2 separate regions of the Homo sapiens genome follow, and region 2 is linked to region 1. The links come from fine-mapping of genetic effects on gene expression. A gene starts in region 1. The other region holds a variant in brackets. All regions are shown on one strand. Distances are from middle to middle. Region 1 holds the start of TEX9 (testis expressed 9). Region 2 overlaps MNS1 (meiosis specific nuclear structural 1).

Evidence for each region. PIP is the estimated chance that this variant, and not a neighbour inherited with it, causes the effect. A credible set is the group of variants that fine-mapping cannot tell apart.
Region 2: its variant is the best candidate, but not a certain one, in a credible set for the expression of TEX9 in tibial artery (GTEx, PIP 0.70).

What each region holds. Positions count from the first base shown.
Region 1 is chr15:56,364,355-56,367,274 of GRCh38, forward strand. TEX9 (testis expressed 9) reads left to right here and starts at 1,072. Exons shown (of 12, transcript NM_001395496.1): 1 at 1,072-1,123; 2 at 1,225-1,316. The coding sequence starts at 1,097. RefSeq lists enhancers at 536-715, 726-775, 1,316-1,365.
Region 2 is chr15:56,450,354-56,453,273 of GRCh38, forward strand. The region is part of intron 3 of MNS1 (meiosis specific nuclear structural 1); the gene reads right to left. It also overlaps a transcript of TEX9 not described here. Among named protein-coding and RNA genes, the nearest start is that of MNS1, 13 kb to the right of the region's middle. The variant T/TG (reference allele first, on the strand shown) is at 1,376.

The sequences.
Region 1 (2,920 bases):
ATTGGTCAGGCTGGTCTTGAACTCCCAACCTCAGGTGATCCACCCGCCTTGGCCTCCCAAAGTGCTTGGATTACAGGCATGAGCCTCTGTGCCCAGCCTCTTTTTTCTTTTCTTTTTTTTTTTTTTTGCTACTGCTTTTGGTGTCATATCTAAGAATCCATCAAGGATTCTCAGAATTGTAATTCAAGGTCATAAAGATTTACACCAACAGTTTCTTTGAAGAGCTTTAGAGTTTTAGCTCCTAAGTTTAGGTCTTTGATACATTTTAATTTTTGTATATGGTGTGAAGTTAAGGGTCTAATTGCATTTGGATATCCAGTTGTCTCCCCATCTGTTGAAGACAATTATTTTCCCATTGAATGGTCTTGCACCCTTTCTAAAGATCAGATGACCATACATCATATCACGGTTTATTTTTGGATGTCAATTTTATTCCAAAACAATTGAAATTGTTAACCGCTTACGTGTTTCAGGCATGATCCTAAGCACGAATTCATTTGCTTCTCATAATAACTGTGAAGTGGGCACTATTCTCACTTCCATTTGACAAATGAAGTGGCCGATATACAGAGTGATTTGCCCAAGGCCATATAACTGGTAAGTGGCAGTGCCAGGATAATAATTTAGGTTGACTAACTTGAGAGCCTGAGTCTTAGCCATGCATGCTGTAAACAAAAATTAGAAATCAAAACTTCTGAATTCCACTGAAGAGCTCACTTTAAGCAAACGGGGTGAAGGTCGGATTAGCCACTAACGGTTTGAAAAGCACAACAGGGAGGGATTGCCTCACCAGCTTGCTTTCTATAGAGTAGCGGCAAAGGACCTGCCTGTTTTGGCTGAAACTCTTTCAACCCCCACAAGTTGAGAATTTGCACTAACTAAGTCGAATTTGCAGTTAGGAAGCCTTCCTGGGTTCCTGGGACAGCGCCGAGTGCTGCGAGCAAAGGCCGAGCCCGCTGCCAGAGGCTCGCGCCGCTCGCAGCACAGAACCTGAGAGTGGGAAGGCGTAGGCGCCCGGGCGGGAGGCAACCGGGATGTGGAAACTCTCGCGGGAAGATGCGTCGTTGCCTCGGTAACCGCGTCGCAGTCGCCGAAGATGGCGGGGCGAAGTCTGTGTCTCACGGTCAGTTCAACTCCAGGCTCCTGGGGAGCGTCTGGGTTCCGGCGACTAGGACGCCTAACTTCCTTTAACTTCGGGTCTGAAAGTCTGTGGCTCTTTTACAGAGAAGCAGCGTTCCAGGGACTCCGTTCCCGCCACCCGTTCAGCAACCCTCTACACCTGGACCCGACCTCCTCGCCTTGGAGGAAGAATATAAGTAAGAAATTCGGCGGTTGAACTTTTCCTTCTTTCTTTCATCTGAATGAGGCTGCTTACAAGTACTTTTTTCTGGAGACTGGCTGGATCTTCGGGACCACTCACTCTGCAGCATTCCCTTCTCGTCATCTCGTTCACCTGCCGTTTATCCTTTCTTTGTCTTTGATCTGAGTAGTTCGCCTGCGTATTAGAAGATATTTGAAGTGGGCGAAAATTTAGCCCAAGTAAGCATGTTGTTTAATTTAAAACGTAGCCCAAGTAAACAGCAAGATACTGTTGGAAGTTATTTGGGTAGCAGGAATTGCCACGAATAGTTAGTTCACTTGATAGTTTAGGTTATTTCGCTTAATATCAAGTTCATAGAGTTTACCTTGTGTAAATTTCCTTTAGGTTGGTTTCTAAATTGAAAGGATGCTTCCCACTGCAATCAGAATTACCATTCTCGTTCAAATATTCCTTTTCTTATCTGTTCTCAGTGTAATTACAACTATCCTGACAACGGTGCTTTCATTCTTGGCCCATTCTACTCCTCATCCCCAAGTTTTCACACAGCAGCCAGTGTAATCTTTTAATTTGATCTACCATGCCTTTGCTTAAAATTCTACAGTAGTTTCCTGTTGCATTTCAAAAGCTCTGATCGATGTGGCTCCTCCTGCCTCCTCTATTTGATCTTATTCCCTCTTCCCCTTTTCCCCCTAAAACTCTCCAGCTTCACTGGCCTTTTAGTTCCAAAAACTCTTCCAGGTTTTCTTTCTATCTCAGGAAAGAGACAGTCACACACGCCTTCAACCTGTAATGTGAGTGGCCTTCCTTGACCATGCTAAGTAGGCTCCCTTGTTGGTCTTTTTCATTGTCTCAGTGATTTTTCTTTCTAATTAGCATAATTTGTTACAATAAATTCATTTGTGAATTTCCTTTTTGTCTGTCTCCACTGGACTGTAAGTTCCAAGGGCAGAGGCGATGTCTGTTTTATTTGCCATCATACATACCCTTATAAAAAAGTGCCTTTTAACAACTCCCTTCCGTTTTAATATAAAATAACTAGATTAAAATTTGGAAATAGTTGGCAGTTTGTATCAGAGGGTTAAACTAGAGTTATCGTATGATCTACATATGATCTATAAGCATATTTGAAATTAAAACTGAAAGGTACTGTGTTTAGGTGAACTATACACAGACCAATTTACCACAGCAAGTAGGAAGATAATCATATCTTCTTCTCTCTGATGAAATGGGCCGATTATCCCAGTTCAAAAGTGTACTTAAGCAAATTAATCTGTTTTCTATATATAGTTCTTTATCAGCTATGCCTCAATCAAAACGGTTATTTTCATTATCATTAACCATATAGTATTAAATACCTGGATTAGGTTTATTTGTTCAGTTATTTGAGAGTGTATTTTGCACCTGGTTCTGGTGCATCCTTAGGGATACAGTCCTGCTTAAAATGAGAAATATACAGGGACTATTATTGTATTCTAGCACGAGTTACTTTATAAAACGAGATAGCTAAACAGTATTATATGGTGGCCAGTTGTTACTTGTTCTGTTATCTGTACTCTGAGTTGTGCACATCTGAAGCATATGAACAGAGTAACTCCCTAC
Region 2 (2,920 bases), 86 kb after region 1:
TATTTCCAAAACTTTTTCATTCCCCCCAAAGAGAAATGCTGCACCTCTTAAACGATAACTCCCCATTCTTCCCTCTCCCTAACCCCTGGAATTCCTAATCTGCATTTTGTCTATTTGCCTATTCTAGATAGTTCACAAAAGTGGAATTATACAAGGAATTGTCCTTTTGTGTCTCGCTTACTTAACATAATGTTTTCAAGGTTCACTAATATTTTAGCATGTATCAGTGCTTCATTTTTTTTTTATAACTGAAGGATATTGTATAATGTATATATACTACACTTCATTTATCCACCCATCTGATGGACATTCAGGTTGTTTCAACATTTTGGTTATTGGAAATAATGCTGCACCAAAAGTTTGTATACAAGTATCCATTTAAGTCTCACTATTGAATTTTTTGTATATTTATGCCTAGGAGTGGAATTGCTGGCTCATATGGTAATCCTTTGTTTAACTTTTTCCCATAGCACCTGCATCATTTTACATTTCTACCAGCAATTTCTGAGGGTTCCAATTTTCCCACTTTCTTGGCAATACCTATTATTTTCCACTACTTTTATTAAAATTGCCTATTAGATGTGAAACAGTTTCTTCTTATGGTTTTGATTTGCATTTCCCTAATGACAAATAATGTTGAGTATATTTTCATGTACTTATCATTCACTCAACATCTTCTTTAGAGAAACGTCTAAGTTCTTTGTTCATTTTTGAACTGGGTTTTTAAAATTATTGAATTGTAAGAGTTCTTTATATATTTCAGATATTAAATCCTTATCAGAGATACAATTTGTTCTTCTGGCCTAAATGAGTTCTGAGTGAGGTAAAACAGATAAGTGCCTTGTGTTAGTTTTTCACGTAGTCCCAAGGTAGGTTAGAACAGATATACCCAACAATTTGTGAATAAGATCTGCTCTGCTCCTCCTGAACCAGGGACCAGGGTCCTGCATTGGGAACAAGGGCTACCTGCCTCTGAGCTAGGAGGGAATGAGGAAAGGGCAAGTGAAGATACCACAGAACTTTACTACCATTTTTAGGCTTTTTCTTGTTTCAGCATTTGCTTGATTGCAATAAACCTTTGAATGCTACCCAAATTTCTTATAAAATTGGTTCTGAGAGTTTCTGCTTGTTTTCTGATGTTTGTAGTCGGGGGATGGGCTGGGAGGAGAGACAGGAGCTGGGAGCTGCCTACTCTGCTATTTTGCTAATATCAGTCCAATCCTGCAACTTTTAGTATGTGGTATTTTCATTATTATTCAGTTAAAAATACTTTCTAATTTCAATTTTGATTATAGACAGTCTCTGATTAATGATGGTTTGACTTTACAATGGTGAGAAAACCATATGCATTCACAGTAGGTTCCTCAATTCATGA[T/TG]GGGATGCATCCCAATAAACCTGTCGTAAATTGAAAATGTAGTTTATTGGGACATGAACCCATCGTACATCAAGGAGCATCTGTACTTTTTGACCAAAGGGTAATGTGAAGCACATTTTTAAATACCTAAGCATATAAAGATTGCCTAGATTTTTTTTTATTACTTACGTCTAGTTTAATTCCACTATGGACAGAGAAAATACTATGTATAAATTGATTCCTCTGAAAATCTGTTGATATTTTTATTCTGATACAACATTTCATCAATTTTGGCAAATGGTTCAAATATGTTTACTATAACTACTAATATAATTGGGTTTCCATTTACAAGCTTATATCTTCTTTCTACTTGTCTTCCCTGTCCTATGTTCTCTCTTCTCTCCTGTTTGCTTCTGTGTTGGGGGTTCCCAAGACCACCATCAGGTTAGATGATTCACTAGGAGGATACAGGACTCAGCATATAGTTATACTCACGGCTATGACTTACTATAAAGAAACGAAACACAGCAAAATTGGCAAAGGAAAAAGGCACATGGGTGAAATTCAGAGAAAACTAGGTGCAAAAGGCCTCTACCTGTGGAAACACACAGGACACGCTTAATTCCCCGAGCAATGAGTTGTGACGTGTGAAATGCCTGGCAGACAACATTAGAGCTCATCAGAACTCAGTGCTCTGGGTTCTTATTGGGGGTGGTAACTTAGGCACCCTCTACTTAGAACGTACCAATATTCCAGACTCCCAGAAAGAAAATGGGTATTCAGTATAATCCATATTGTTTTGTTTTCTTTTTTTCTTTTTTTTTTTTTTGAGACAGAGTCTCTCTCTGTCGCCCAGGCTGGAGTGCAGTGGCGCGATCTTGGCTCACTGCAAGCTCCGCCTCCCAGGTTCAAGCGATTATCCTGCCTCAGCCTCCCAAGTAGCTGGGACTACAGGCGTGTGCCACCAGGCCCGGCTAATTTTTTGTATTTTTAGTAGAGACGCGGTTTCACCGTGTTAGCCAGGATGGTCTCGATCTCCTGACCCTGCGATCCACTCACCTCGGCCTCCCAAAGTGCTGGGATTACAGGCATGAGCCACCGCACCCGGCCTAATCCATATTGTTTTCACATTTTAGCCACAGTGAATCATCCTCAGCAGTTAAGGTGGTAAGAACCTTCTCAAAAGCCTAGTTTCCAGAAACCAGCCAAAGACCAAACTTGCAAGGAGGACTTTCTAAGATAGCCTCAAGCCTGCTATGTTAACTCTTTTTTACATGAGTTTTTTGGAATAATCAATTCCTATTATCGTATTTTATTCTCTATTAGTCAGTTATATTTTCTTTTCCAAATTTTTATTACAGATATTACAGCATGTTTCTTTGTTTCCAGGTGAATAAATTTATTCATTATTATTTGACAATGCAAGATTCTTGACTTTAACTTCATTTACTTCCTATCTCATTTTGTCATATTTTTAACTCTTTACATATTTTAATTCCCAAAAGACATAATAAATATTTTATACATTCAAATATCAACTAAATTTACTATACATGTACCTCTTGC